Linked DNA regions of Homo sapiens: regions 1, 3, 4 and 5 are each linked to region 2. The links come from fine-mapping of genetic effects on gene expression. A gene starts in region 2. Each other region holds a variant in brackets. All regions are shown on one strand. Distances are between the middles of the regions. Region 1 has its middle 24 kb from the start of CEP19. Region 2 holds the start of PAK2 (p21 (RAC1) activated kinase 2). Region 3 overlaps PAK2 (p21 (RAC1) activated kinase 2). Region 4 has its middle 26 kb from the start of SENP5. Region 5 overlaps PAK2 (p21 (RAC1) activated kinase 2).

Region 1 (6,439 bases), 52 kb before region 2:
GTATTTACCCAAACCAGTGTTTAACTCCTGCCACTGCCACTCACAAAATGCTGGATTGCCTACCACTTACTTCACTCTGCTCCTTGGTTTCTTAATCTGTATAATAGGATCAGAAATTCTTCTGTGAGGAAATTCGGAAAGGAAAACCCAAACGTAGCAGAGACAATGGACATTGGCACCCTTCTGCCCCCTGGTGGTAATTTTTAGAACCATGTGGGCAGTGGCGAGGCTAAAAATAAAATGTGCAAAGTGTAAAACAAAAACCACGCAGTGTCTTCCTTGTCATGCACAGCCGCGTTCGAATCGCTCATTGTCTTGCCTCCTCAGTGCTTTCTCCCGCCCACGACTATCAGTGGTCCAACCACACATTGCAGGAAGTTCCAGGAGTCATCCACTTACCCTAGAGCAAGCTTGTCCCACCTGCTGCCCGCGGGCTGCATGTGGCCCAGGTGGCTTTGAATGCAGCCCAACACAAATTGATAAGCTTTTTTTTGTGACTTTTTTTTTTTTTAGTTCATCAGCTATCATTAGTGTTAGTGTATTTTTTAATGTATGGCCCAAGACAATTCTTCTTTTAATGTGGGGAGAAAAAAGATTGGACACCCCTACCCTAGAGGAATGATAGTGTTTAGTATTTGTTTTCATTCTTATTTTCCTTCTCCTCTATATCGCATGGATTGTGGAGCGTGTCCATGTCTTCAGGTCATCAGCATGACTTTTAGGGGAGGTGACTACAGAGTCAAAGCCATGGGAGATGCGGAATTCAGCTGAAGATCACTTAAACATCCAGCACCGCTGTAGCACTAGTCATAGAAAGAATATGAAGAGAATTCAAGATTAAACAGATTGGCCAGGCGCGGTGGCTCAGGCCTGTAATCCCAGCACTTTGGGAGGCCGAGGCAGGCGGATCACCTGAGGTCAGGAGTTAGAAACCAGCCTGGCCAACATGGTGAAACCCATCTCTATTAAAAGTACAAAAAATTTAGCCGGGTGTGGTGGCACATGCCTGTAATCCCAGCTACTCGGGAGGCTGAGGCAGGAGAATCGCTTGAACCCGGGAGGCAGAGGTTGCAGTGAGCCGAGATTGTGCCACTGCACTCCAGCCTGGACGACAGATCAAGACTCTGTCTGGAAAAAAAAAAAAAAAAGATTGAGCAAAGCAGTCAATAGATTAATTGGATTTAATTAAGTGATGAAAGAATTGAGTAATGGAACTTCACCCATTCTAACCATGTGATAAAGTAGAAAAGGTTCAAAGATTTAGTAGGGGTTTAAAATGAGTTTAAGAGAATGGGATTACAATTCCAATCCCATTGGTAAGACAAATTTTATTTCTAAAAATTCATGTATTTCCCCCCTTTATACAACTGCAAATGCGAGTTTGGAGCTAGAGTGGGAGAGGAAAGCAAAGAATGAAGGGAAAGAAATAGGAGGAAGATTCTAGAAATGGGGGCAGCATGGGAGAAGTGGTGGGAGCAAAGTCCTGGCATATAGATGCCACAATCAAAACTTCTGCCCTGTTTCCTAGCTGCTTGGTGTCAGCACTGGGGCCATTCCCCCAGCCTGTGACCTTGGCATCCCCTATGTTGACCTGGGCTCTTCCTCTGTCCTTCCACCTGGATGTCCTTTAGTGGGTCCTGGCCAGGGTCCTATTGCTCCCTTTAACCTCTGGAGCTTTTGTCTGCTACATTTTCTTACACTGATGCTGACTCAGACCTAATGCTGGGTGAAGTTGTGATGTGGCTGAAGTGTCTGGGTGTAATTCAAGAATCCTCGAGGGAGAATCAGGAGTTTTGGGTTCCGGTTCCAACTTGGTAATTTACCAAGTCACAGCCTCCTGGAGCCTGGTTTTCCCTATCAATAAAATGAAGAAATCTGTCTTCTCTAGTTCATAAGTTGTCAAGATCAAATGTGTAAATACATAGGAAGTTCTTAGGAAAGGGAAGGCTTCTATCACTGTAAAGAAGTATCATTGATAACTAGTATATGATAGTCTGCTGCCGTCTGCCTTCCCCATATGTACCCTATCATGCTCTGAGTCCCTCCTTCCTGCCTTTTCCCCATCTCTTATCACAACCTGCTTTTTGTATGTGATTGCTATTTACACCTTGATAATATTAAATCAGAGATATACACAATTAAATTTGAGATAGTTACGCCTTGTCCAGAAATATTCACATATTAAGCTTGATCGCTATTTGGGTGGTAAAAAGTTAGTCCTTGTTCAAGAAATGTTAACCAACAGTTTGGGGTAGGAGGGAGAAGTGAGGCTTTCCTTGTGTTCTGAAATCACTATATTTCATGCCTGAATTAGCCTGTCTGAGCTGGAATTCAGAGTGAATCTTTGGATCCATGTTTTAAAGGGACAACTATAGAGACTCCCATTGCTTTTTCTATGCACATAGTTTTTGTGCGGTTTTTACTGGAATCTTATTACAGTTACAGTTACCATCCCATGGACCAACATGGTCCATCGAGGGCCTTGCAGTGAGAGGGTCAGTCCATAGATGCTGGAGCCACATGACGTGGGTTCAAATTTCAACTCTCCCACTTATTAGTGTGTGACCTTGGACAGGCTGCTTCACTGCTCCGGCCCTCAGTTTTCTAATTTGCAAAATGGGGGAGATTAATAATACCTATCTCCAGAGGTTTGTTGGGAGGATTAAATAATAGGCCTAAAACACCTAGAGCAGTGTCTGGCACTGAGTACACATTAGCTGGAATTTATTTCAATTGCATGTTTGAAAAAATTTAAACCATTCAGAAATTTAATTTTAAAAATAAAAAATGAAAAGTCACTTAAGCTCTCTATCTCCCACTTTAACCCCACTCCTCTTTCCACAGGCAAACTGTTAACAGTCACTTTGCACACATCATTCAAGAGTTTTGTTTTGTTTTTGTTTTTGTTTTGAGACTGAGTTTTGCTCTTGTTGCCCAGGCTGGAGTGCAATGGTGTGATCTCGGCTCACTGCAACCTCTGCCTCCCAGGCTCAAGCGATTCTCCTGCCTCAGCCTCCCGAGTAGCTGGGATTAAAGGCATGCGCCACCACGCCCGGCTAAATTTTGTATTTTTAGTAGAGATGGGGTTTCTACATGTTGGTTAGGCTGGTCTCAAACTCCTGCCCTCAGGTGATCCGCCCGCCTCGGCCTCCCAAAGTCCTGGGATCACAGGTGTGAGCCACTGCACCTGGCCTCATTCAAGAGTTTTTACTGATATATTTTTTAAATCAAAGAATTATAATATACTATTTGGCAACTTGTTTTCCTCACTTAACCATGTAGCTAGGAGTTATTTCCAGGTCACTATGCCCAGTGCTACCTTCTTCTGCCTAAGGGTTTCATAGTATGCCGCAGCATGGACACTGCGCAATTCACTTAACCAATGTCTTATTGATGGATATTTGGAGTGTTTCCAGTTTTCGATATTTGGAGTGTTTCCAGTTTTCCACGATCATATTCGCTTTTTGCACATTCTTTTCTCTTTATAATTCAGAACCATCAAGCTGAAGCCCAGCAGGGCTTCCTCATTTCATCATCATAGCTCATTTCCTATTGAGCAAAGCTTCTTCCTCGGGTCAGCTCTTGCCACACTTCTTTCTACAGAAACAA[G/C]AAGTGGAGTTATCTGTCCTGGGCTTCGGGAGTGAACACACCCATTCCCACGCTGCTGCTGCCCACGCTGCTTTGCCCACACAGCACCACTGTCCCTGGGGATCCTGAATAACAATCTGCTGAGCAAAATCAACATCCCTTTGGCTACAGCGAGGCTAATTGCACTTAATAGGTTGTAAGAGTTCTGGTACAGACAGGCTCCTTCCCATGATGTATTTCACCACCTCATTGAAGAGATGTGTGTTCCAGTGAGAGTCTGTTCCTCCGTGTCATCCCAACAAATGCTCCTATGTCCAGGAGCCATTGTCAGGAATGCTCGTTCCTCTCCCTTCTACACAGACAAATCTCCCTTTGAGGACACACTCAACTCCAACTCCTTTTGTGAAGCTTTCCCTGTTGCTCCAGCCTGCATGAATCCTTCCCTCCGCCGAATTTCTTCAGCAAGAATGCCTTCTAGGCCAGGCACGGTGGCTCATGCCTGTAATCCCAGCACTTTGGGAGGCCGAGGCGGGCAGATCACCTGAGGTCGGGAGTTCGAGACCAGCCTGACCAACATGGAGAAACCCTGTCTCTACTAAAATACAAAATTAGCTGGGTGTGGTGGTGTGTGCCTATAATCCTAGCTACTCAGGAGGCTGAGGCAGGAGAATCACTTGAACCCGGGAGGCGGAGGCGGAGGTTGTGGTGAGCTGAGATGGCGCCACTGCACTCCAGCCTGGGCAACAAGAGCGAAACTCCATCTGAAAAAAAAAAAAAAAAAAAAAAAAAGAATGCCTTCTAAGTGCATAGCACCTGTGTGAGGGTGAAACCCTGGCCCACAGAGCCAGTGGTCGTAGGATAGTTAAAATAGAAGGCCACAGTATATTGGGAGGCCAAGGCGGGCGGATCACGAGGTCAGGAGATCGAGACCATCCTGGCTAACATGGTGAAACCCCGTCTCTACTAAAAATACAAGAAATTAGCCGGGCGTGGTGGCGGGCGCCTGTAGTCCCAGCTACTCGGGAGGCTGAGGCAGGAGAATGGCGTGAACCTGGGAGGCGGGGCTTGCAGTGAGCAGAGATCGTGCCACTGCACTCCAGCCTGGGCGACAGAGCAAGACTCCGTCTCAAAAAAAAAAAAAAAAAGGCCATAGTATATCAGAATTCCATAGAAATAAGATTATTACAAAAAGCCTATAAGCAGAGAGACACTGGAATATACTGAAGCTAGTATGAGCAAAAGGGAATTGTGGGTTGGAACACCAATACCCACAGCAACAGTGAAGGAAAGCAAAAGCCTCGCACAGCGCTTCTCAAAGTGTGGTCTGGGGGCTTGTTAGAAATGCAATTTCTTGGCCAGGCGCAGTGGCTCACACCTGTAATCCCAGCACTTTGGGAGGCCAAGGCAGGCGGATCACCTGAGGTCAGGAGTTCAAGACCAGCCTGGCCAACACGGCAAAACCCTGTCCCTACTAAAAATATAAAAATTAGCCAGGCGTGGTGGCACACGTCTGTAATCCCAGCTACTCAGGAGGCTGAGACAGGATAATTGCTTAAACCTGGGAGGTGGGAGTTGCAGTGAGCTGAGATTGCGCCACTGCACTCCAGGCTGGGTGACAAGAGCGAGACTCTATCTCAAACAAATTAAAAAAAGAAAAAGGAAAATAAATGCAAATTCTTAGGCTCCACCCCAGACTTACTGAATCAGAAATTCTGGGGGTGGAACGCAGCAATCTGCGCTATCGTGAGTCCCACAGATGAGTCTGGTGCATGCTGAAGTCTAAGAACCACTAGCTTGAGTAGAGATTCAAAGTTTGGGTCTCTAGCACAGAAAGACTTTTGCAACAACGAGTCTCGGGAGGCGTAAAGCAAGCAGAGAGGACTGCAGCTGTTAAAAGTAGTCCTAAGAAGATTCTAGGTAGGAGAACTCAAGCGTGGGGAGCTGGGAAACCCCAGCTGGCAGGGAGGGGTCCTACCTGGCGAGCTGCCCCCCAAGGGCCTGCGCTGGTCAAGTGTCTCCCGAAGGGTCTGCCTGCGGGCAGGAGAAACACAGGTGTCCAGGACTAGTGTTCTGACTGATACGTGGCCCTAGGATTTCTCTCCTGGGACCACTTGGAGAGGCAACCCTTGGCTGCCAGAGGAAGAGACTGATGGAGGCAGCAGGACGGGAGGAAGGCCTGTGGGAGGAGGGTGCCAGAGTGGGAAGGGAGCATGTGAGGAGAGTCTTGATGGTTAATGCCAATTACCTCTAGAAAATTACCAGGCTTTACAGACTCAAGAGCTACTACCCAAAAGATTGAAAAAACTGCCTTAAAAAAAAAAAAAGCAACCCACCCCAGGGAAGAGAGAGAGCTATTTAGAAAACTCCAGAAGTAAATAAGCTCAGACAAATCTGAGATTTATCTGGTCTCTGCTCCTGAGTCCTGTCTGAGAATCAGGCACCTAAGAGACGGGGTGTTGTGTCCACCAGAGACGGTGGAGAGGCCGGGCACGGTGGCTCACACCTGTAATCCCAGCACTTCGGGAGGCCGAGGTGGGCAGATCACCTGAGGTCAGGAGTTCAAGACCAGCCTGGCCAAGGTGGTGAGACTCTGTCTCTTCTAAAAATACAAAAATTAGCCAGACTTGGTGGCGCACACCTGTAATCCCAGCTACTCGGGAGGCTGAGGCAGGAGAATCGCTTGAACCCGGGAGGCAGAGGATGCAGTAAGCCAAGATCACGCCATTGCACTCCAGCCTGGGTGACAGAGCGAGACTCCATCTCAAAAAAGAAAAGAGATAGCGAAGAAAGCCATCATCTCTGGTGGTTTGCAGGTTTGATTTTCATAGCAGAACCCTTAATGAAGATCTCA
Region 2 (6,439 bases):
TTAGCAGAGACAGGGTTTTGCCGTTGTTGGCCAGGCTGGTCTTGAACTCCTGATCTCAGGTGATCTGCCCACCTCAGCCTCCTAAAGTGCTGGGATTACAGGTGTGAGCCACTGTGCCCAGCCGGTAGCTGTACACTTCTAAGCTTGGTTATTTTCTCTTGGTACTTTGAAAATATACCATTATTGACTGGCACCCGTTTTGCTGTTGTGAAATCTGCTATGAATGTAATAGTTGTTTGTACAGAATGTCTTTTCTCTCTGGTTGCTTTATCTCTGGTATTCTGCGGTTTCATTTTCATGTGTTTGAAATTTCTTTACTTATCCTGCTTGGTATTCAGTTTGCTTCCTGAATCTGAAGATTCCTGTCTTTAATCAATTCTGGAAATTTTTCAGCCATTATCTCATCATTATCTGCCTCTCTTGGTTTTTCTCTTTTCTCTCCTGGAATTCTCATTAGGAGTATGGTAGAGACCTTAACAATCTATCCCCATGTCTCTTAAGCTTGCTTTCATTTTTCCTGTCTCTAGGCTGTTCTCAGTAATTTCTTTTGGTCTGTCTTCCAGTTTACTAATTTTCTCTTCAATTGTGTGTAATCTGCTATTTAACCAAACATTGGCTTTGGTTTCAGTTATTCTTTGTTTCTAGAAATTCTACTTAATTCTTTTGTTGTTGTTGTTTTTGTTTTGAGACGGAGTTTTGCTCTTGTTGCCCAGGCTGGAGTGCAATGGCATGTTCTTGGCTTACTGCAACCTCCACCTCCCAGGTTCAAGTGATTCTCCTGCCTCAGCCTCCTGAGTAGGTGGGACTACAGGTGCCCACCACCACGCCTGGCTAATTTTTGCATTTTTAGTAGAGACTGGGGTTTCACCATGTTGGCCAGGCTGGTCTCGAACTCCTGACCTCGGGTGATCTGCCCACCTCGGCCTCCCAAACTGCTGGGATTACAGGTGTGAGCCACCGCGCCTGGCCTACTTATTTCATTTTCAAAGCTGTTTGGTCGTTAAAAAAAAAAAGCATCTTGTTTCTTGCTCGTGTTTTCTAGCTCCTGTCTTACTTTCTTTAATCATTTAAATAGGCGTACTGTATATTCTGTAGCCATCAATTCCAGCAGCTAAAGTCTGTGTGGGTTTCATTATGTTCTTTGTAGTTTCTATTGACTCACTCATCGCTGCTTATTTCCTCAGGTGTATTGTATTTCGGGTGCTCATGTTTGGCTTCGGAAATCCTGTTTATCTGTGAAATCCTTTGAGACCGAGGTTGAGGGTACACCTGTGCAGTCAGGATTTGTATTTGTTTCTTCCAGGCCCCCCAGAACTCCAGCCTGGGACCACTTTCTTGACAAATTTGAACTTTAAAACCTTAGTGAGGGAAAATTCTAAAGGGTTATTAATTCTAAAGGGAAAATTTTCTTCTGCCCTGCAAGCCCACTGCAGGCCAAAGTAAACAAATGTCCTGTGTGTCTCCCTGGGCTAGCATAGGGTTTTTTTTCCCCCCAGTCTGTTCTTGGAGGGTATAGCGCCTTGAATTTCCAGTCCTATGCAGGATCACAGTCCTGACTTCTTGTATAGGCCCAAGTCCTTGTCTTTAGTTTCCTGTGCACCTATTAAAACTCTAGAGATTTCTGAGATAAGTAGGTGCCCTCAACACAACCATGGCTTCACTGCCCTGCTTACCACTCTGGTGTCCTGCCCCTTCTTCAGGTTGAGTGTGAAATTTGGAAGACTGTCAGAAACATTCTATTTTCATTCTTGCAAGTTATGCCTTTGAAAGGATGTCTTATTTATCCAGTGTTTCTGTGTGTTTAATAATCAGAGCATTTTTCAGGTTATCTCTTACTGTGCCATGTTGCTCCTTGATTCCTTTCTCTCCTGTACCCACTGCATCAATTGAGTTTTTTGCTCTACATTGATAGAGAAGCACAATTCCTCTTTCTTTCCACTGCCTTCCTACTTTATTTCCCTTCTATTCTTGCATCTCTATACTCCATTATCCACATTGCAGTCTAGTGATCTTAAAGTGTAAGCCAGGTAACATCGCTTTCCTGCTTAAAAAAGCCTTTTAATGGTTTTTTGTAATATAGACTTTTTACCATGGCATTCAGGATCTTTCATGACCTGAATCTTGTCTGCTGTAGTGTTTTCTTAATAGTACCGCCTTCTTGTTCTAGGCCCCAGCTACACAGGCCTTCTTAACTGACCGTAGCAAGCCCTTTTCTTTCTTCTCCTGCCTGTATTGCTTTTCTCTGGGTGCTTCTTATTGCTGTCTCTTTCTGTTCTTGCCTTAAGTGTCACCTCCTTAACGAGGCCTTCTCCGACCACCCTATCCAAAGTAACCTCGCCAAGTTTTTTCTTATACCAGGTGTGACTACTTTAATTACTGCGTCCTCATATAAGCTCCACAAAGGCTTGGTGAATCGTGTTCACCCTTGCATTTCTTTTGTGTTTTTTGTTTTGTTTTTGAGGCATGACGACTCTGTCACGCTGAAGTGCAGTGGCCCGATCTTGGCTCACTGCAGCCTCCTCCTCCTGGGTTCAAGCGATTCTCCTGCCTTAGTCTCCCGAGTAGCTGGGACTACAGATGCGTGCCACCATGCCCAGCTAATTTTTGTATTTTTAGTAGAAACGGGGTTTCATCGTGTTGGCCAGGCTGGTCTCGAACTCCCGACCTCAGGTGATCCGCCTGCCTCAGCCTCCCAAAGTGCTGGGATTACAGGCGTGAGCCACCGCACCTGAACCACCCTTGTATTTCTGATGCTTAACAGTGTCTAGTCCATATCAGACACTCAAATATTTGTAGAATAAGTGAAACATTGATGAACTCCTCCGTGGATAAAATAGGGAAGTCTTAATTTGCAAGGAGGTGATACTTAATTTAGCAGCAAAATTTTAGTTAAGAATTTGTAAGCAAAAAAGCAAAATGGATAACGGATGAATTCCCAGAAACAAATGTCGCGGAGCAGATGTGTATAACAGCAATCGTCTGTCAGCGTCTTCCGTCGGCAGAGACCTGCTTGGAGACAATGCTGAATTAAATGAGGGACTGGCTGCTCCTCTCAATACAAAGACTACCCAAGGAATAAAAGCAACGTCTATCACCGAACTACTACTCCCAGCGGCCCCCGCGCGGGCCTGCCCATGGGAGGTGGCGCTCGTCTCCGCCCCGGGGAGCTCCGGCTTCGGGGCGGGAGGGGTTCTGGGTTCTGGCCCCGCCCCGCCCCGCTCCCCGCCGTCTTCCTCCCCCAGGGTTGTGGCCACGCGCAGCGGCGGCGGTTGTTCCGCTTCCCCTCCGGCCCGGGCCGTCGCCATTGCCGAAGGCTCCCTCCCCTCCCCTCCCTGGCGTGCGCAGGACTCCGCCGCCGCTGGGCCTAGCGGTAGCAGCGGCTGCTCCAGCGCGGCGTCTCTTCCCGCCCCGCTTCCCCTTCCCTCCCCTCCCCTCCCCGCACCGCGCGCTAGCCCGGGGCGGCTCCGCAGCCCGCCGGGAGCTCTGACCGAGGCGCCTCGCTGGGGCGGGGACCTTGCCTTGCCCGGGGTAAGTGCACACAGGCCGGCCGGCGCGGGACGCAGGCCGGGTCTCTTCCTCCTCCTTCCTTCTCCGTGGCCTGGCGGGCGGGAGCGGCCCGGGACGGCCGACCTGCCCCGCGCGGGGCCGGGGAGCCGCCACCTGCGTGCTGGGAGCCGCAGCTCCTGGGGCGGTGGCTCATTGTCTGCTCCCCAGGGCCGTTTTCTTCGCTGGCTTTAGCCAGAAATGGGAAGCTCGCTGGGCTGCGGAGGTCTGACTCTTCCTGGACCCAGCCCTGCTCTGAACCTCGCGGCACCACGGTCTCTGCCGACTCTCGGTCTTCCCTCCCCTCGCGTTTCACCCTCTTCCTTTGCTCCGTTTTCTTAATGCTGGACCAGACTCTCCGGTTTTGTTCCTTGATTTTTCCTCTCACTGATTCTCAGCCCCTGCTTGCTCGCTCTCTGTTCACCCGTTTCACTGCTCAGGAATATTGTCGCGAGTAGCTTGACTGTTTTCTCAGCTCCAGCCTGTAACCTCTTTTCCACATTCCACATTGGTAAAAACGTAGAGCGTCCCGGGCGCTTGAGGGCCACCGCTTACGAACTGATCTTTCGGAGCTTCTCCTCGCTCCTGTTTGAGCTTCAGCCTAGGGGTGAAATTTGCTTCTTTAGATAACTTAGGTGAAGTTAAGATTGGTTTTTCACCATGTTTGGCTCTCTTGGAAACACACGCACGCACAAACACAAAACGTTGCCACTCAACCTTTTAACTAATTCTTTAAAGATAAGTCATCCAAGAACAGAAGCGTGTCATCGTCAGTGGGTGTGAGGTTGTACCCATCCTTGTATCTTAATTTTAGTAGTACTCTCCCTGGGCAGTGTGAGCGTGATTTGTTGTCCCTTGATAAATAACGAACTCCGGTTGATATCATTATCTCACTTCTGCGTTACAGGCGATGTGTCCTTTCTTTGTTTTCTTTTTTAACCTTTATAAAAAGACAAAATGGTTAGGCCTAAAATTAAACTACGAAGAGCTGTGTTTTGGATCAAGGTTGTGCACGTCACGTTTTTTCCCCTGCTGTGTTCGACTCTTCCGCTCTTATAAGTAGGCAGGATATTGAAATGTACAAGAATTTGCTCTGGGGATTTTGTTTTTGTAGGGTTGTCCAATAGAATAACACTCAGTAAAGTTACATTGGGATGAAGGCAGTGAATAGTAATTTTTAAAGCAGGTTAAAACTTGTCAACTTTGCCAGAAGGTCTGTGGCTTCTGTAAAGCCCACTCATGCTCGTGTATATATGAAGAGCCTTTTTCATGTTCTGTTAGGAGTATGGATTTCAGGCAACTTTTTCACTGTGTCATCCTCGGCTATTAAATCTTTCGAGCTACTTATTAGCCAAGCACATTGATTGACACTTATTACGGAAAGTGAACCTGTAATAGATGTAGGTCTTAAACCAACTTTCCGATTTGGTAACAGGTTGACCTAAATTCAGTGTATTTTGTGTTTTCACTAAGTAGCCCATTGTTACCTTTCCCTCCAGCAAGGCTCTGAAAAAAGTGGCTCCAATACTCAGCTTCAATACTGTCATCATTTCTTAAATAGTAGTATCAGTTGTCCTTAACTTAATGGATGTTTTATTGGCCTGAGGGATTAAGGTGTAGAAAGGTTGGAGTTTTGTTGGAGTTTGAAACTTGGTCTGTAGATGTTGGCTTCTCTGCCAGTTTCTTCTAATCAGCAGATATTTTTATGAAGGAAGAGTTCCTGGGTATTTCACTTCCCTTAGGGCCTTGGTTTATGGTTTACTCTCATTCAGAGAGAGATACTATTCTGGACTCCGTGCTATTTAATACTAACCTTGCAAACCCAAATTCAAAATTAAGTTTATAGTTCGAGTATACAGGCGATAGGGCTCTCTGATCTTTATGATAGACAGGTTCCCAAGTAGATGCGGTTAACAATTAATATTTCTTTTTTTTTTTTTTTTTTGAGACGGAGTTTCAGTTGCCCAGGCTGGAGTGCAATGGTGCGATCACCGCAACCTCCGCCTCCTGGGTTCAAGCGATTCTCCTGTCTCAGCCTGCTGAGTAGCTGGGATTACAGGCACGCGCCACCACGCGCGGCTAATTTTGTATTTTTAGTAGAGATGGGGTTTCACCGTGTTGGTTAGGCTGGTCTCGAACTCCCGACCTCAGGTCATCTGCCCGCCTCAGCCTCCCAAAATGCTGGGATAGGCGTGAGCCACGGCACACCACCAACAGTTTCTATTTCAATTATACTTTTTAAGAGAGACTAGAACTTGTTCAGGTAGCTAAAGATAAACTTTCAATTATACTTTTCTAATATTTAAGAACTTCAAGTAGCCAAGGATAAAATGAGTAGGAATTGTTAGATTCTTCCTTTTATCCATCAAAATCGATTATTATTATAATAATATTTGAGTATATTTCTTTTGGCTTTCTGACTTTTACACTTTTGGTTAAAATTTGAAACTGGGTCTTCTTCGCCGGGCGCGGTGGCTCACGCCTGTAATCCCAGCACTTTGGGAGGCCGAGGCGGGCGGATCACGAGGTCAGGAGATCAAGACCATCCTGGCTAACACAGTGAAACCCCGTCTCTACTAAAAATACAACAAAAAATTAGCCGGGCTTGGTGGCAGGCGCCTGTAGTCCCAGCTACTCGGGAGGCTGAGGCCGGAGAATGGCGTGATGAACCCGGGAGGCGGAGCTTGCAGTGAGTCGAGATCGCGCCACTGCACTCCCGCCTGGGCTACAGAGCGAGACTCCGTCTCATTAAAAAAGAAAAAGAAAAAGAAACTGGGTCAACTTCAAGACTTTAAGTCGTAAAGGTTTCCATCAGTTTGGTATAAGAGTTGAGTTTCCAGACTAATCAGAGGGAGGGTGTTAATTGCAAATTGTGTGTCCAAGCTCTTCCTAGTAT
Region 3 (6,439 bases), 64 kb after region 2:
AAGGAACTGATGTGTTGGAGTTCACAGAGAACATTATTGATAGGTGTGTGGCAGAAATGTTGCAGAAATAATTTACAATCGGACCATAGAAAAACTGCATAGTTTTAAAATGTGGCAATTAGTAACTCCACTAAAAAAGGATTATGCTTGCACAAAAAAGGAGAGGTGGTTTTGTCAACTACTTGTCTTGACAGTGTGTATTATCTGCGGAGTCACAGTAATGCAAATCTGACTTCCTGATGAATGTAGCTGAGTGGAAATGGGGTTTGCTGTGTTTGCTGTCCACATTGCTCAGCATCTGAGATGTAGCCCTTTGTGAGAGAGCTGGTGCCCGAAGGGGGTGTCTCTTCTGCCTGTGCTCTGTTACTCAGGCCTGCCGTTGGTCACTCCATGTGCCTCCTCAGTGTTTGGTTGTGTCCAGCCCTACTCTATGGCAGGACAGTCTGCTTTACTTCATTTACTAGTTTCCTATCAGCCAGTTTTTAGGGGAAATCTTTTCTAGAATAACTTTGATTCTAGTGTGTTTTCTAGAATAACTTTGATCCTAATATGTTTTAGGAAAAATATAAACATAATATGCCGGGCATGCGGTGGCTCACATCTGTAATCTCAGCACTTTGGGAGGCCAAGGCAGGTGGATCAGGAGTTTGAGACCAGCCTGATCAACATGATGAAACCCTGTCTCTACTAAAAATACAAAAATTAGCCGGGCATGGTGGTGGGCACCTGTAATCCCAGCTACTTGGGAGACTGAGGCAGGAGGATGGCTTGAACCCGGGAAGCAGAGGTTGCAGTCAGCTGAGATTGCACCACTGCACTCCAGCCTGGGCAACAAGAGCGAAACTCCATTTAAAAAAACAAAAGACAAAAAATAAAATTATAAGTGCCTTTACTAGTCTTGTTTAAATAGGCTGATTCTTTCTCTTTTTTTCTAATGCCCCCTAGGAAGTAAAAAGAAAGAAAAGGAACGGCCAGAAATTTCTCCTCCATCTGATTTTGAGCACACCATCCATGTTGGCTTTGATGCTGTTACTGGAGAATTCACTGTAAGTTAACCTAGTTCGGGCCCATTTATAACGTTTAAAATAGCACTCAAACATTTTCCTTCATTATTAAATTTGAAATTAACATTTCAGGCCAGGTGCGGTGGCACACGCCTGTAATCCCAGCACTTTGGGAGGCCAAGGCTGGCAGATCATTTGAGGTCAGGAGTTCGAGACCAGTGTGGCCAACATGGTGAAACCCCATCCCTACTAAAAATACAAGAAAATTAGCCAAGCGTGGGGGTGTATGCCTGTAATTCCAACTACTCAGGAGGCTGAGGCAGGGGAATCATTTGAACCTCGGAGATGGAGGTTGCAGTGAACAGAGACTGTGCCATTGCACTCCAGCCTGGGCAAGAAGAGTGAAACTCCGTCTCAAAAAAAGGGAAATTAACATTTCTATCTATACGTTAACTATGAATTCTTACTGCTTTTTGCTTTTTATAAAAGTGTTAGTGGTTGGATATATCGTTTTCCTAGAGAGCAGAGCCTATTAATTATAGTTATGCAAAACAGACTTAGAAAAAATAGACCTAGGCCGGGCGCGGTGGCTCACGCCTGTGTAATCCCAGCACTTTGGGAGGCCGAGGCGGGTGGATCACGAGGTCAGGAGATTGAAACTATCCTGGCTAACATGGTGAAACCCCGTCTCTACTAAAAATACAAAAAATTAGCCAGGCGTGGTGGCGGGCACCTGTAGTCCCAGCCACTCTGGAGGCTGAGGCAGGAGAATGGCCTGAACCCGGGAGGTGGAGCTTGCAGTGAGCCGAGATCTCGCACGACTGCACTCCAGCCTGGGTGACAGAGTGAGACTCTGTCTCAAAAAAAGAAAAAAGAAAAAATAGACCTTTAGAAAATGAGATCTTTTAAAATTTACTCAAACCTACACTCAAAAGATTGGTTTGTTTTGTGTATTTTGTCATTTATCTCTGGAAATTAATTTTATTGCATCAATTTAAACCATAACTAATTTCTGAATATCTTCTTGTTAGGGCATGCCAGAACAGTGGGCTCGATTACTACAGACCTCCAATATCACCAAACTAGAGCAAAAGAAGAATCCTCAGGCTGTGCTGGATGTCCTAAAGTTCTACGACTCCAACACAGTGAAGCAGAAATATCTGAGCTTTACTCCTCCTGGTAAGAGAGTGGCATAAGGCTGGATCAGATGGAGATTTGTGAAGCACTTCTAGATAAAAAGATTACTCCTGGAAAAATGAAAAGCTAAACTATGGTTCTTGTTGATAACGGTTTTTCCCTGGATAGATTCTACCTTTTGTAGACTGATCCAGGGCAGTTCTGAAGCATAATTTGGATCTGTGAATTATAGTAATCTCATAGGTTTGCCAGAAACGGGAGTTGATGGATATTTTGGCTTTTTGTTTATTTGGTTTTTTCTCCTCATTGCTGTGTTTTTGTTTTCATTTTTCACTCTTCACTGCTTTTAAATGACTTCCAGCAATCAAAGGAAAAGACGCTGGTTGATAGACATGTTCATACTAGAAACACATTTATTGTTAGCGGGACAAGAGGAGGTTGAACTAAAAAATGTTTAGGTCCACTCAAAAAATTGAAACTCGCAAGTGTGCAGATAATAGAATATATGTATTTTAATATATAAAACAGATAAATCATATACGAAAGAAGCGTTAGAACTAAAAGGATTTATACCTCAGAAATGGAATATCTGGAATATCATCTACATAGTCACAGTAATGCAAATTTTACTTTCTGGATGAATATAGCTGGATGGAAATGGGGTTTGATGTACTTTGTTTTCCAAGTTGCTCAGTATCTGAGATATACCGTTAACCTATGAGAGAACCAGTGAATTGGTATATAGTGTAAGAGTTGGTGTAGTGGATTTTTAAAAATAGTTTTTGTTCAAATAAAGATCAGAATAAAGTTCATACAACGCAGTTGGTTGATACATCTCTTGAATCTCTTTTGATCTTTAGGCTTCCCCTCCCACACACTGGTTCATGCTGTCTTTTCTTGACGTTTATTTATTACAGAAACAAGATCATTTGTCCTGTTTCCCTCAGTTTAGATTTTGCTCACTACATCCTCAGGATGTCATTTTTCAATATGTTTGTCTGTCTCTGAAGTCATACATGTGGTTTTCAAAAGCAATATGATGGAGCTAAAATCGTACATGTGGTTTTAATTGATTTTACTTACTGTTTGCATCCTCACAGAAACAAAGGCCATGTGCAAGGGAGAAATAGAAATCTTTTTCAAGTGATCTTGACCTTTTTTTGTTGAGTCTAGTACACCGTTAGGAAAAGGTCACACTTGCTCCTAGAACTTTTCTATCAACCAGTAAGTCTGTGTGTAAATTAGTAATTTTTTTGAAAAACCAATGTTTGACCACAAAATGGTAGCTTATTTTCACCTAGTACACATACATACATATATGTGTGTGCGCACGCGCGTG[CGTGT/C]GTGTGTTTTGTTTTGTTTTTGAGCTGGAGTTTACTCTGTTGCCCAGGCTGGAGTGCAGTGGCACAATCTCGGCTTGCCAGAACCCCCGCCTCCCGGGTTCAAGCAATTCTCCTGCCTCAGCCTCCTGAGTAGCTGAGATTACAAGCATGCGCCGCCACACCTGGCTAATTTTGTATTTTTAGTAGAGACTGGGTTTCTCCATGTTGGTCAGGCTGGTCTTGAACTCCCAACCTCAGGTGATCTGCCTGTCTCTCGGCCTCCCAAAGTGCTAGGATTACAGGCATGAGCCACCGCGCCCGGCCTGTGCGTATGTAATATGTGATATGTGTGTGTGTGTGTGATATATATATATATATATACACATATATATATATATATACACACACACATATACACACACACACACATATATGTATGTCTCTGGGCATTTTTAAAAGAAAAACAAAACAATGTCAGAATTTTACTTTGCACAATTGTCATTGTCTTAATTGTTGCATTAAGTTCCTCAGTCAGCAGTTTTCTGGAGAAAGTATCTTTATCAATAAATTTGTTTTGTTTTAATAAATACAGATTGATAGGTATACTTTCAAACTAAATTTTGATAGCTTTATTGAGGTATAATTTACATGCAATACAATTCACCCATTTTAAATATATAATTCACTGATTTTTACTAAATTTATAGTTTCATGTAGATTTCAGATTTCTTACCTTGGTCTTATATAAATTCTTATTTGACTACTTGCGTGTTCATTTTTCTCAAGAGTTAATTCAACTTGAAATCAGTTTAAGAACATTTCACTTTCTCTGCTTTTTTTTTTTCCTTTTATCATATAAAAGTGCTGTTTCTTGAATTGCTAATGTTATGTTTTGTTTCATATTCAGAGAAAGATGGCTTTCCTTCTGGAACACCAGCAGTAAGTTAATTATATTATTTCTTGTATCTCTTGTTCTAATTTAGGTTACCCAAGACAAATCTCAGTTTTTATTTTGCTTTCTAAAATAAATTACAGCCATCAGAGGTAAATAACTACTCAATAGGTGTTTTTAGCTAGCCACCTGATTAGTTGAAGAAGCCGTATTAAATAGAAATTCCTTGATGTGATACTTAATGTAACTAAAATTTATAATGACCTTCAGAACAGTTTAGTTAGTTTTGGTAATGTTAACATATACAAACGTGAACACAAAGAACTTGCTAGCATATATTTTCCTCTCCATCCCTCAGTTTTCCTTCTGGTACTATTTTACTGAATATAGACTGTGGAAAGGTGCTGAACAGTTGAACCTTGTCAGTCTTCAGAGTCATCTGAAACTTAAGTTATCGCATAAACACAGTCAGTTTTTGGAAACAGTCGTTTTATTTGCAGTTTCTCAATTGGGAGGAAACAGTCTCCTGGAGTTTTATTTTTTTATATTTTATTTTATTTTATTTATTTATTTATTTTATTTTTATTTTTTTTGAGTTAGAGTCTCGCTCTGTCGCCCAGGCTGGAGTGCAGTGGCGCAATCTTGGCTCACTGCACGCACCGTCTTCTGGGTTCACTCCATTCTCCTGCCTCAGCCTCCCGAGTAGCTGGGACTACAGGCGCCTGCCACCACGACCAGCTAATTTTTTGTGTTTTTAGTAGAGACGGGGTTTTACCGTGTTAGCCAGGATGGTCTTGATCTCCTGACCTTGTGATCCACCCACCTCGGCCTCCCAAAGTGCTGGGATTACAGACGTGAGCCACCATGCCCGGCCCCAAATCTGACTGTTTTAAATGTCACCAGATGTCTCTGACATAACAAAGCCCAGAGGATCTTTGATTTTGGTCTTAACAAGTAACATTGTTTACTTTCAGGACATTGTATATGTATGCTTAGGGTAACTTTATTAAAATATTTGGTACTCACCATATATATATATTTCATAAACTTTTTCATGATTCATAGAATCGCCTTATTATGTTAGATTATAATTCTATTGAGTTATCTAAGAGCTAATGAGATTTAGTGGTTTTGAAATGAGCTATCAAAGAAGCAAACTTTTTGAAGTACGTTCATAAAGGGCGATAGTCGCATTTAAGCCTATTGGACTTGTTTTCCTTACTTTGCTCATCATCAATGCAGCTGAATGCCAAGGGAACAGAAGCACCCGCAGTAGTGACAGAGGAGGAGGATGATGATGAAGAGACTGCTCCTCCCGTTATTGCCCCGCGACCGGATCATACGAAATCAGTGAGTCTCCATCGGTGATCTAGGCTGTGTGTGTGCACGTGTGTTTTAAAAAATAGCAGAGTTTGTATTTGACTTTCAGTGATTGCTTTTAAAAAGCCCTCAAGTTTAAAATCGTTTAGTATGGGGAAATTTAACCAAGAAATCTGTACCCAAAGACCACTCACCTAAAACTAGTTTTCTGAAGATTAAAATGTGATGTCTTTAAAAGTTAACGCACTCACCTCACTGGGCTTTTTTCTTTGTATAGTACACCTTTTCCAGAGGGTTCGTCTATTTCCCAAGCTTTCTCTGTTTATCTCAATGTAGATGACGACTAAATCTAAAACTTAGAGCTTTCCTCTTACCCAGATTATGCATTTTAATCTCCCATTTTACACTACTCTCAGCGCCTTGCTGTCATTCAAAAGGCAGTTGAGAATGAAATTCCTAACCAGGTAAGGGAGAATTTTAAAAATGATGACCTTAAATGGAGCCAGGAAGAGAGGAATGACTGCGGTTACCATTCTGCTCCCTTCAGTACTGCAGGTAGAGTGTGCGGAAGGTGCTGTGCCGTGGAATGGGCTGTGCTCCTGGCACAGCGGGCAGGCAGAGCTCAGGAGACAGCCTCTGGATGCCAAGCTGATGGCAGAGGACTCCGTTTTCTTTAGCCTTTCAATCTGGCTGTTTGAAATGGGTGGTAGGCATTATAATTGTGTAAAAACTTTCATGGGAATTAATAATAGTTATTTCAACAT
Region 4 (6,439 bases), 100 kb after region 2:
ACATTCTGATTTATAAAATTTCAGCCATTCAGACAAAAGAAAGCCTCTTCAATCCCAGTCCAAGTCCCCGTTCCAAAGGAAATCTCTTACTAGTTTCCATCTTTTCAGACCTTTCTCTTTGCATTATACCTAGATACTGGTCAGTTTTGTAGACCAAGCAGTTCTTGAAGGCTGCAATCAAAGACAATTTATGTTTGTTTCCCTCTCTTCTAACCCATTTTACAGGGGTAGTTCTTCCCCATTCCCTGGATGAAATTTAGAGCAAACACCCAGGCAGTTTTACCAATGAGTTCTAAGAATATTCAAAGAAAAAATTCCAATCCTGCACAAAGTATTTGAGGATATAGAAAACATTCCCCAAATTCTATTATAAGGATGGAGTAGCCATGATACCAAAATAATTGAAGAAGAAAATTATAGGATAGGCCAGGCGCAGTGGCTCACAACTATAATCCCAGCACTTTGGGAGGCTGAGGCAGGTGGATCACCTGAGGTCAGGAGTTTAAGACCAGCCTGGCCAACATGGTGAAACTCCCTCTCTTTAGCTGGGCATGGTGGCATGCACCTATAATCCCAGCTACTCAGGAGGCTGAGACAGGAGAATCACTTTAACCCAGGAGGTAGAGGTTGCAGTGAGCCGAGATCGTGCCGTTGCACTCCAGCCTGGGCAACAAGAGTAAAACTCCGTCTCAAAAAAAAAAAAAAAAAGTATAGGATAATCTCATAAATACAAATGTGCAATTATTAAATATATTACTAGCAAACCGAATCTAGCAATGTATGAAAGAGGTAGTGCATCCTAAACAAGTAGGCTTATGCATGTAAAAATCAAGATAATTTACAGTATTAGTAGATTATCTGGGCATCTCAACAGATTAAAGAGAGTGGCTGAGCCCAGTGGTTCACACCTGTAATCCCAGCACTCTGAGAGGACAACACAGGAGAATCACTTGAGGCCAGGCTCAAGACCAGCATGGGCAACATAGTGAGACCCTGTCTCTAAAAAACCTAATAAAAAAACATTAGCCAGGTATGGTAGCACACCTATAGTCCTGGCTACTCTGGAGGCTGAGCTAGGAGAATGGCTTGAGCCCAGGAGTTCAAGGTTGCAGTGACCTGTGATTGCACCATTGCACTCCAGCCCACATGACAGAGTGACACTGTCTCTTAAAAAAAAAAAAAAAAAAGCATTGGCTGGGCACGGTGGCTCACGCCTGTAATCCCAGCACTTTAGGAGGCCGAGGTGGGTGGATCACCTGAGGTAAGGAGTTCGAGACCAGCCTGACCAACATGGTGAAACCCTGTATCTACTAAAAATACAAAAATTAGCCGGGCATGGTGGCATGTACCTGTAATCCCAGCTACTCGGGAGGCTGAAGCAGCAGAATCACTTGAACCTGGGAGGCAGAGGTTGCAGTGAGCTGAGACCTCTCCATTGCACTCCAGCTTCGGCAAAAAGAGCAAAACTCCATCTCAAAAAAAAAAAAAGCATTTAGTAAAATTCAGTATCAATTCATGATTAAAAATATATATTTTAGCAAATTAGGAGTGAACTTTTTTTTTCCGAGATAGAGTCTTGCTCTGTTGCCCAGACTGCAGTGCAGTGGCATGATCTCAGCTCACTGCAACCTCCGCCTCCCAGGTTCAAGCAATTCTCCTCCCTCAGCCTCCCGAGTAGCTGGGATTACAGGTGTGAGCCACCACACCTGGCTAATTTTTGTATTCTTAGTAGAGACGGGGTTTCACCATGTTGGCCAGGCTGGTCTTGAACTCCTGACCTCAGGTGATCCACGTGCCTCGGCCTCCGAAAGTTCTGGGATTACAGTGAAGCCACTGTGCCAGCCAGGAGTGAACTGAATCACTTGAACCCGGGAGGCTGAGGTTGTGGTGAGCCGAGATCACACCATTGCACTCCAGCCTGGGCAACAAGAGCGAAACTCCATCTCAAAAAAAAAAAAAAGAATTTGAAAGCAATGGCTGGGCACAATGACTCACGGCTATAATCCCAGCACTTTGGGAGGCCGAGGCAGGTGGATCACCTGAGGTCAGGAGTTTGAGATCAGCCTGGCCAACATGGTGAAACCTGGTCTCTACTAAAAATACAAAATTACCCGGGCGTGGTGGTGGGCACCTGTAATCCTGGAGGCTGAGGCAGGAGAATCACTTGAACCTGGGAGGTGGAGGTTTTAGTGAGCCGAGATCACGCCACTGCACTCCAGACTGGGCAACAGAGTGAGACTTGGTCTCGAAAAAAAAAAAAAAAAAAGGAATTGGAAAGCAAGATAAAATCTCATTATTTTCAGATAAGGTTGATATGATAAACTATTAAAATTAAGAAATTTAGCAAGTTTGCTGTATGCAAAATCAGTGTGCAAGAGTCTATTATATTGCTAAGCACTAGCAACAAATAGAACACATAATCTTAAAAATCTACCATTTATAACAGATCAAAAATACAAAGTACCTAGAAATGGTCACTCCTGTAATCCCAGCACTTTGGATCACCTGAGGTCAGGAGTTCCAGACCAGCCTGGCCAACATGGTGAAACCCCATCTCTACAAAAATACAAAAATTAGTTGGGCATGGTGGCGTGCGCCTGTAATCCCAGCTACTCAGGAGGCTGAGGCAGGAGAATTGCTTGAACCCAGGAGGCAGAGGTTGCAGTGAGCCGAGATCGCACCATTGCACTCCAGCCTGGGGTGATGGAGTGAGACTCTGTCTCAAAAAATAAATAAATAAACAAAAAGGGAGGATTTTACTGAAAGATTTTAAATGTTGGATTGGAAACTATTTTATGGATAGTTGAAATTGCACTTCAAAAGAGAAACAATTTAATTCAATTTAAGCCAGATAAATGAAACATTGGTTCAAAGTCAGAAATACATAGTCCTCTAAATTTTAGTATAAAGAGACACTTTACAGAAGCCATAAAGTAGCCTGTAGAGGCCAGCACCGGGGCTTATGCCTGTAATCCCAGCACTGTGGGAGGCTGAGGTGGGTGGATCACCTGAGGTCAGGAGTTCAAGACCAGCCTGGGCAACATGGTGAAACCCTGTTTCTACTAAAAATACAAAATTAGCCGGGTGTGGTGGCGCACTCCTATAGTCCCAGCTACTTGGGAGGCT[T/C]AGGCAGGAGAATCGCTTGAACCCAGGAGGTGGAAGTTGCAGTGAGCTGAGATCATGCCATTGCACTCCAGCCTGGGCACAAAGAGTGAAACTCCATCTCAAAATAATAATAATAATAATAATAATAATAATAATAATAATATTCAAAAAGGAGAATAGTTGGGAAGCCTATAAATTTCAGCCTATCCTAATTCAGGGATCCTGCTTCTAGGAGGAAGAAAAAAAGGCATCCAATAGAGATGAATGAACGTTGTATACCCCCTTTGCCTCCTTTTCAGGATAATTTAGTGCAAACTTTAATACTCGCCATTCAGATGCTCTTCAGTCATAACTCCTAAACATGCTGAGGGCCTGTTGTGTGTCTGAATTAGTGGATAGGGAAATGAGGCACAAAAGGCAATTTTGAAGACTGGCCTCTTTCAGAATTGCAGAGTTTGGTGGACTTTATTTTTTTCTTTTTTTGGGGGGTGGGGGGCGCAATCTCACTCTGTCACCCAGGCTGGAGTGCAGTGGTGTAATCGGCTCACTGCAAGCTCCGCCTCCCAGGTTCAAGCGATTCTCCTGCCTCAGCCTCCCCAGTAGCTGGACTACAGGCGCCCACCACCATGCCTGGCTAATTTTTGTATTTTCAGTAGAGACGTTTCAGCATATTGGCCAGGCTGGTCTTGGACTCCTGACCTTGTGATCCGTCCGCCACAGCCTCCCAAAGTGCTGGGATTACAGGTGTGAGCCCCTGCACCTGGCCTTTGGTAGACTTTATATTGAGGAGCTTTTGTGGCTGAGTAAACTCTGGACTTTTGGAAGGAGAAGAGGTAGAAAGGTGTTCATGGAAAGGGACCCAATCCCCCAGGAGAGGGTTCTTGGACCTCATGCAAGAAATAATTCCAGGGGAGTCCACGGAGTAAACTGAAAGCAAGTTTATTAAGAAAGTAAAGGAATAGGGCCGGGCGGGGTGGCTCACACCTGTAATCCCAGCACTTTGGGAGGCCGAGGCAGGCGGATCACCAGGTCAAGAGATCGAGACCATCCTGCCAACATGGTGAAACCCCATCTTTACTAAAAATACAAAAATTAGCTGGGAGTGTTGGCATGCGCCTGTAATCCCAGCTACTCGGGAGGCTGAGGTAGGAGAATCACTTAAACCCGGGAGCAGAGGTTGCAGGGAGCCGAGACTGTGCCATTGAGCTCCTCCTGCCTGGGCCACAAGAGCAAAACTCCGTCTCAAAAAAAAAGGAAAAGAAAGGAATAGAGCACGTCTGCTCCATAGGCAGCGCGGCAGCTTGGGCTGCTTGACTGAATATACTTACAGTTATGCTAAACAAGGGGTGGATTGTTCATGAGTTTTCCAGGAAGGGGGTGAGCAATTCCCGGAACTGAGGATTCCTCCCCTTTTTAGACCATACAGTGTAATTTCCTGACGTTGCCATGTCATTTGTAAACTGTCATGGTGCTGGCGGGAGTGTCCTTCAGCAGCTAATGCATTATAATTAGCGTCTAATGAACAGTGAGGACCACCAGAGGTCACCTCATTGCCGTCTTGGTTTTGGTGGGTTTTGGCTGGCTTGGTAACACATCTTGTTTTATCAGCAGGGTCTTTATGACCTGTATCTTGTGCTGACCTCCAGGCCTCAGCCTTATTTTAACCAGTCCTTATTCAAGATGGAGTCACTCCGGTTCAAACACCTCTGACAAAGGGATAAAGAAAAACGTGGTCTGCAGATTGTTGCAAATGAACCTAAGCCAGGTTTGATCATGCCTCATTTTTGTTTGGTTGTTTTTTTCCTTTTTTTTTTTTTTTTTGAGACAGGGTTTCACACTGTCACTCGGGCTGGAGTGCAGTGGTGCGATCTCAGCTCACTGTAAACTCCACCTCCCAGGCTCAAGTGATCCTAACACCTCAGCCTCTCAAGTAGGGACTACAGCCACCACACCCGGCTAATTTTTGTGTTTTTTTGTAGACGGGTTTCACCATGTGACCCAGGCTGGTCTTGAACCCCTAGCCTCAAGTGATCCACCGCTTCAACCTTCTAAAGTGCTTGGATTACAGGTGTGAGCCACCTCACCCGGACATGCTTAGGTTGTTTCTGTAAAGTTATAGCTACCTATGGAGTTTGAGGTGGTGAGGGTTAACTAACTTCTGACAACCCCCCTGCCAGATTATAATGAAAGCAAGTCGCAGACCAAATCTTGTCACACACCTGAAAGCTCATTTAAGCAAACATTTGTCAGCAAAAGTGTTTGTTCAGCCTATCCTGTAGCTCACTATAATCCATGCTCTCTGTCCCAAATGCTCTGTCCACAACTTTGCATGAAAAGTTCACTTGAGGCAGAGAGGGAAACGTGCCAGGGGCCAGGATTCTGTTACCCTTAAAGATGGCATCATGTAACCAGACATCCTCTTAACTAGTGGCTGGTCACAGGATTATGTAACGATGGAGCCCTGAGGGCCATTCCTAAGGGGTCGCGTTGCTGACCTCACTAGATTCTTACACCTTGTTTATGCAAAGGCAGCAGGAGTCTCTCAAATAACTTTAGCCAATGGAAGGATCCCGAACACCTTTCATTTCACTGATGAGAGCCCACTGATGACCTCATTACCAATTAACAAGCAACTCAGTTCATCAGGAAACAGCCATTTCTTTTTCCATTTATTTATTTATTTATCGAGACAGTGTCTAGCTCTGCTGCCTAGGCTGGAGGGCAGTGGTGTGATCATGGCTCACTATAGCTTTGACCTCCTGGGCTCAAGCAATCCTTCCAGTTCAGCTTCCTGAGTAACTGGGAGCAGAGATGCTCGCCACTACAGCTGGCTACTTTTTTTATTTTTTGTACGGATGGGGTCTCACTATGTTGCCCAGGCTTGTGACTGCACAATGGGTTCCCCTTGCCCGTTGCCTAGGCAGAACTGATACCTCACGACAGGGGAACTGCAGTACAGAAAGAGTAATTCACGCAGAGCCGGCTGTACAGGAGATCGCGGTTTTATTATTATTCAAATCAGTCTCTCCAGGCATTGGGGGATCAGTGTTTTTAAGGATAATTTGGTGGGTGGGGGAAGGCCAGTGAGAGAGTGTTGATTGGTTGGGCCGGAGAGGAAATCATGGGAAATTGAAGCTGTCTTCTTGCGCTGAGTCAGTTCCTGGGTCGGGGCCACAAGATCAGATGAGCCAGTTTATCCATCTGGGTGGTGCCAGCTGATCCATCAAGTGTGGAGTCTGCAAAGTATCTCAAGCGCTGATCTTAGGAGCAGTGTAGGGAGGGTCAGAATCTTGTAGCCTCCAGCTGCATGGCTCCTAAACCATCATTTCTAATC
Region 5 (6,439 bases), 90 kb after region 2:
GTCTCGCTCTGTCGCCCAGGCTGGAGTGCAGTGGCGCAATCTCGGCTCACTGCAAGCTCTGCCTCCCGGGTTCACGTCATTGTCCTGCCTCAGCCTCCCGAGTAGCTGGGACTACAGGCGCCCACCACCACGCCCGGCTAATTTTTTGTATTTTTTAGTAGAGACAGGGTTTCACCATGTTAGTCAGGATGCTCTCAATCTCCTGACCTCGTGACCGGCCCGCCTTAGCCTCCCAAAGTACTGGGATTACAGGCGTGAGCCACCATGCCCGGCCTTGGTTTTTTTTTGTTTTGTTTTTTGTTTTTTAAGTTTTAACAAATCTCATTTTTTTTAATGATATGTATGACTTGAAAAAAATTTGAGAAACCTAAACAGGATGGTCAATGGTGAGGTTGTGGTTATTTTTAATTATTAACATTGTTTTATTTTTTAAAGCAATATGGGCTGGGCACAGTGGCTCACACCTGCAATCCAGCACTTTGGGAGGCCGAGGCAGGTGGATCATTTGAGGTCAGGAGTTCAAGACCAGCCTGACCAATATGATGAAACCCCACCTCTACTAAAAATACAAAGATTAGCAGGTCATGGTGGTATGCATCTGTAATCCCAGCTACTCGGGAGGCTGAGGCAGGAAAGTCACTTGAACCCAGGAGGCAGAGGTTGCAGTGAGCCAAGATTGCACCACTGCACTCCAGCCTGGGTGACAGAGCAAGATTCCGTCTCAACAAAAAAAAACAAAACAAAAGCAATATGTATTGCATTTATAACCGAAGAAAAACCAAAGGTGAATCTGATTTCAGAAAAGTAACTTAAGGAAATGTAACATCTAAAAATAAGAGGAAAGTATCAAATCTAAATTTAAATGGGATAATGATAACCCCAGTTTAGTATTTATGGTGATTTTCTTTAAAGAAGAAAGAATCCCTTAGACTTTATGGAGTGCTCTGTGACCGTGTTGAGCTATCTTAAGTGGATCAAAGATGTTCTTCTATTTTTAGGCCTTGTACCTAATAGCAACTAATGGAACCCCAGAACTTCAGAATCCAGAGAAACTTTCCCCAATATTTCGGGATTTCTTAAATCGATGTTTGGAAATGGATGTGGAAAAAAGGGGTTCAGCCAAAGAATTATTACAGGTAAATTTAAAAATGATTTCATTTGGGGGAATAGTTGACTTTTTTGGTAACCGACAGAAAGCTTTCCTAGGGCTAATAAGTAGATTTCACTACTCATTGATCACCAGCGGTATGGCAGCTGCTGCAATTTAGGGTTTCATCCTACCATGCTGAGCAAACTACCGCAAGGACAGAAAACCAAACACTGCATGTTCCCACTCATAGGTGGGAATTGAACAATGAGAACACCTGGACACAGGAAGGGGAACATCACACACCGGGGCCTGTTGTGGGGTGGGGGGAGTGGGGAGGGATAGCATTAGGAGATATACCTAATGTAAATGATGAGTTAACAGGTGCAGCACAGCAACATGGCACATGTGTACATATGTAACAAACCTGCACGTTGTGCGCATGTACCCTAGAACTTAAAGTATTAAAAAAAAAAGTGAGGGTTTCATCTGCTGTGAATAAAATTCTGACAAAACCGTAATGTGCAGTTTGTGCATCGTATCAATCCTCAGACCTGTTTACAGTTTGTGCATCGTATCAATCCTCAGACCTGTTTACAGTTTGTGCATCGTATCAATCCTCAGACCTGTTTACAGTTTGTGCATCGTATCAATCCTCAGACCTGTTTACAGTTTGTGCATCGTATCAATCCTCAGACCTGTTTACAGTTTGTGCATCGTATCAATCCTCAGACCTGTTTACAGTTTGTGCATCGTATCAATCCTCAGACCTGTTTACAGTTTGTGCATCGTATCACTCCTCAGACCTGTTTATTGCTGTTGTGTGTATATTTGTCAAACTAAAATGATTCTGCTTTCATTCAACTCTGAAAGTAATGCGTTGATTATGTTAGTCTTATGAAGGTATTAATATGTGTTTAGTTTATTAAATTATGATCGACAAGTAGTCTTTGGGGCTTAATTGAACAAAATTATTTTGTTTCTAACCTGATGAATGGCACTTATACATTTATTTTTCCCCTTCTTTCTGGCAGCATCCTTTCCTGAAACTGGCCAAACCGTTATCTAGCTTGACACCACTGATCATGGCAGCTAAAGAAGCAATGAAGAGTAACCGTTAACATCACTGCTGTGGCCTCATACTCTTTTTTCCATTTTCTACAAGAAGCCTTTTAGTATATGAAAATTATTACTCTTTTTGGGGTTTAAAGAAATGGTCTGCATAACCTGAATGAAAGAAGCAAATGACTATTCTCTGAAGACAACCAAGAGAAAATTGCAAAAAGACAAGTATGACTTTTATATGAACCCCTTCTTTAGGGTCCAGAAGGAATTGTGGACTGAATCACTAGCCTTAGGTCTTTCAGCAAACAGCCTATCAGGGCCATTTATCATGTGTGAGATTTGCATTTTACTTTGCTGACTTTGTTGTAATAGATCCCATTCATTGTCCCCTTTGGGGTATTTCCAATACTTGAATGGCAGATTGGAGTTTTTCAGAGTATGTGTTTCATCTGCTAGTCTTTCTCTCCTTCATAGCTTTTCTTTTCCTGGACTTGCTCCTTTTGAGTTGCTTTTGCGTTTCTCATGCCTAGGCAAGTGTAATAGAAATTATGTAGCTCCTTATGTTGGCAAAGGAGCTCTATATAGTTTCACTTTGTATAAAAGTTAGGACCAGCTGTTGTTACATGTAATATTTTAGTTCAGAACTTGACCTGAAGGAAGGGAAGAAAAGTATGTGATTTTTACCTTTTTTAACAAATGTGAAAAAGTCAGTTTTAGAAATTTCGTGGTAGTAAGTTCGGCATTTGTTACATGTATAGAGAGAAGACTAATAATCTCTATTTATAACTAAATCATTGAGATAGAAAAAGATTCCCATTGACTGTAGACTTCTTCCCATTTTGTCTTCCCTTCTGCCTGTTTCCCCTTCAGGCTTGGCTCTAGGAACCAAAGTGATTTGTTGTTGTTCCAACCTGGGCTTTGTGACTTTGGTTAGTGCCACTACCTTCTTCCCTCCTTTCCCCCTTCAATTTGGAAATAAATTTCTGTATATGTTGCAATTTTAGGTTTAGGTTTGTTCTTTTTCTTTTTCATTAATCCTCTCTCACCTCACAGATACCCCCTCCCATGGCAAATAATATAATAACCAGTGAATTTTCAGGAATTTAAAAATTAGCTTTTTTCCACTTAAAGGAGAAAAATATTTGGGACTAGCAGCAGAGGCAGTAAGAGATGTGAACCTTGGTGAGCTCTGATACAGTGAGAAGAGATTATACTCATGAAAGAGAATGTTAGTGTTACAGAGAAGCAGCCGATAGCAAATCGACTGTAGAGACTTGGCGGCGGTGGCATTGCCCCAGGTCGTCAGCAGTGTGGTATTATCTATGAGAACTTGAGCGACAGAGTATTTCTTGATGAATTTATAGATCATTTGAGATGTTGAGTTACTTTAGTTTAGTTTTGTTTTGTTTTTTCAAATAAGTAGAGACTATTGTAAAAAACGAGAAAGGAAAATGAAATGTGCGTGTTGATAGCAATAATTTGTTTCTTTTAAAGATTCTAAAAGGTCTGAGACCTGTAGCATTAATTATTTGAGTGCCCTCCCTTCTCCCCTCCCCTCCCTTTTCTCTTCTCTTTTTTCCTCTCCTCTTCTTCTCCTTTATTCATTGTTTTGCTTTTGGAGT[G/A]GGTGTTGTTCAAGTATCTGTGGTTTGGTTCTGGCATTTTGTTCCCACCATCCCCTTCCCCCATTAACTTCCCCCCTGCTTGCCATCCTGCAGTAGTATAAATCATGAATAAAAAATAATTTTGCTGTTGTAGTATACATTGGAGAAACTGGCAGGTTTTATTTCCATTATTTTATTTCCACTATATCTATGATAAGATGCAATTATAAGGAGAGAAGTGACTGTTTTTTATTGATAAGGCAAGATTTTCAGAAAAATGAGTAAAATAATTAATGAAACATATTTAGAGCACTTAATGGTCTCTGTTTTCAATATAATTCTTGATTTCATTTTTCTCTGGAATATATTGGCCTTCTACAGCTATTACTGAATTATAGAAACTGGTTTATTTCTGGCAGAAAGCTGCAGTGCCACCTGAGTTCCAAATTTTACCATTCTTTGTAAACAGTTGGATGGATTATGATAAAGAAGATGCTACCAATGAAATAGAAAACCAACGAGATGAGAAGACTGTGATCCTCATGTACTCAGAGGCACTTCCCTCCTAAGTCAAAGACCATCCTCACTGACTATGTGCCAACGCCTCGTTTCAGGCTTGTGACTCAACAAAGGGCTTTTCCATTGATAGAAGCAGTTTGGGATTTGTAGTTGCGACTTCTTCGATAGTTACCTGCACGTCCATTGCTGGCAACTGACTTGTCATTAAAACCTGGCTCTTTGGTTAAGGGAGCTACGCTGTGGTTTATTCTTAAGTTACGTGGATAAACTAACCTCTAACAGAAATATACTTTGGTTAATTTTGAAATGTGTCATTTTTAAACAATCTTAAAAGTAATACAGAATTGTGATTTATTAATTTTAAAACATTCAGAACTTGTTGAAAGAAAAATTATATCTGAATCAAGATTCATGTTTTTTATTTTTATTTTTTTTGATACAGAGTCTCACTCTGTCACTCAGGCTGGAGTGCAGTGACATGATCTCAGCTCACTGCAACCTCCGCTTCCTGGGTTCAAGCAATTCTCATGCCTCAGCCTCCTGAGTAGCTGAGACCACAGGCACCCGCCACCACACCCAGCTATTTTTTTGTATTTTTAGTAGAGACAGAGTCTCACCACATTGCCCAGGCTGGTCTCCAACTCCTGAGCTCAGGCAGTCTGCCCACCTTGGCCTCCCAAAGTGCTGCAGTTACAGGCGTGAGCCACTGCACCTGGCCTCATGTTTTTTAAATAATTGCCTTTTATATTTACCCTTTTTGTCATCACTTTAGAATGAAAATTCCCATTTAAATCTGAAAGTTACCTTAATAGTCCTCTTGTGTTATTAGGACAGTATTATTATAGTACTTATTTATTTTATTTTAGATTTAAAGTTATCTTCTCTTTTTCTTTTTTCTTCTGCTGCTTTTAGGGACAATTAAAACTGGGAAACTATGAAACATGGAACATTTTATCCTACCTGAAAGTAAACGAGTAATTGTGAAGCATAAGACACTGAGGCTAATACAACTCTGTCTTCATGTGTTGACTGCCTGGCACATAGTATTCATTCTCTTCCCTTTAACATAGAAGTGTCCAGCTGCGTACAGTCTAGTAACCAGCAACTGTAAACGAACCTGTGCCTCTAACAAGCGATTCTAAACCACCTATGAGTATTTCTTTTAGGGCTCACTTAAATACATGTTTGTATATACTGTATTCTAGCCAGAATAATTTTAGATCTGATCAGGTAGTAGCTAAAATTAGAAAAAAACAAAATAGATGCTTAAAGAATTTGCATCCATTTTTGAGTCTAAATCTTTTAAAATATACTGAGATCCACATCTAGTGAAATGTCAGTGTCAAAATATTATAGATTATAGCTAAAATCCAGATTAATACTCATTTGGGGTTTTTTATAGTGGAACTTCATAGTAATACAAAAAGCAGATTGTCTTCCTGTCTCCGCTGCTCCCACAGTAGGTATTGAAACTGGTAAAATCAGTTTTTTGATAGTGTGTGTATATAAGAAAAAATAGATACACACATTCTTTTTTCTCAGTCAACACATTGATTGAACACTCTGGCAAAGATGCTGTGGTGGATGAGGTTGGAGTTCGAAAGAAGAAGCAAGCGCTGGCCTGGCCTTGAAAGAACCGAAGTCTTTCCCATTCACTTCTCTAGAAAGCTGCCAAGACAGAGGCAGAAAGAAATGGATGATAGTTCTGTCAAGCACACTTCTGTTCTCTTAGAACTTAGAAGTGTTTCTAAGAGAACAGAAGTAATAAGAGAAACAGTTACGTGTGGAATTCAACATCTTTGGTTGGAACGCATTGGCTTTTTTTTTCTTGTTTTGATAGAAATGGAATTAAGCAAAAGTAGTTTTTGTCTTTTCTGTTGTCTTCAAATTTTATGCCTTTTATTTTTAATTTAATCCCGTTCAATTATTTAATTGTTATACATTGACATTAACTGCTGTATTTTGACTTTGTTCAATAATTTTGTTCTTTCAGGGCTAGAAATAAACTTTTTAAAAAAAGTGTGCATTTTTCCCTTTCCTAAACTTTTATTCTTTCTTTTGATCAGCGTAAAAGAATATTTTAATGTCTTTTGATAGCATAAAAGAATATTTAAATGTCTTAATAGGTTTTCAAAGAACATTTAGTATTTTTAGTGATAAATGTTTT

Evidence for each region.
Region 1: its variant is fine-mapped to the expression of PAK2 in whole blood (TOPMed, PIP above 0.99).
Region 3: its variant is fine-mapped to the expression of PAK2 in whole blood (TOPMed, PIP 0.98).
Region 4: its variant is fine-mapped to the expression of PAK2 in whole blood (INTERVAL, PIP above 0.99).
Region 5: its variant is fine-mapped to the expression of PAK2 in whole blood (TOPMed, PIP above 0.99).

Annotation. Positions count from the first base shown.
Region 1 is chr3:196,684,875-196,691,313 of GRCh38, forward strand. No RefSeq gene overlaps it. Among named protein-coding and RNA genes, the nearest start is that of CEP19, 24 kb to the right of the region's middle. The variant G/C (reference allele first, on the strand shown) is at 3,610.
Region 2 is chr3:196,736,630-196,743,068 of GRCh38, forward strand. It overlaps PAK2 (p21 (RAC1) activated kinase 2), which reads left to right and starts at 3,228. Exons shown (of 15, transcript NM_002577.4): 1 at 3,228-3,528. RefSeq lists a silencer at 3,019-3,808.
Region 3 is chr3:196,800,982-196,807,420 of GRCh38, forward strand. PAK2 (p21 (RAC1) activated kinase 2) reads left to right here. Exons shown (of 15, transcript NM_002577.4): 3 at 946-1,046; 4 at 2,036-2,183; 5 at 4,371-4,402; 6 at 5,598-5,705. Among named protein-coding and RNA genes, the nearest start is that of SENP5, 64 kb to the right of the region's middle. The variant CGTGT/C (reference allele first, on the strand shown) is at 3,481.
Region 4 is chr3:196,838,376-196,844,814 of GRCh38, forward strand. No RefSeq gene overlaps it. Among named protein-coding and RNA genes, the nearest start is that of SENP5, 26 kb to the right of the region's middle. RefSeq lists a silencer at 3,624-3,778. The variant T/C (reference allele first, on the strand shown) is at 3,127.
Region 5 is chr3:196,826,198-196,832,636 of GRCh38, forward strand. PAK2 (p21 (RAC1) activated kinase 2) reads left to right here. Exons shown (of 15, transcript NM_002577.4): 14 at 999-1,136; 15 at 2,122-6,439. The coding sequence ends at 2,208. Among named protein-coding and RNA genes, the nearest start is that of SENP5, 39 kb to the right of the region's middle. The variant G/A (reference allele first, on the strand shown) is at 3,775.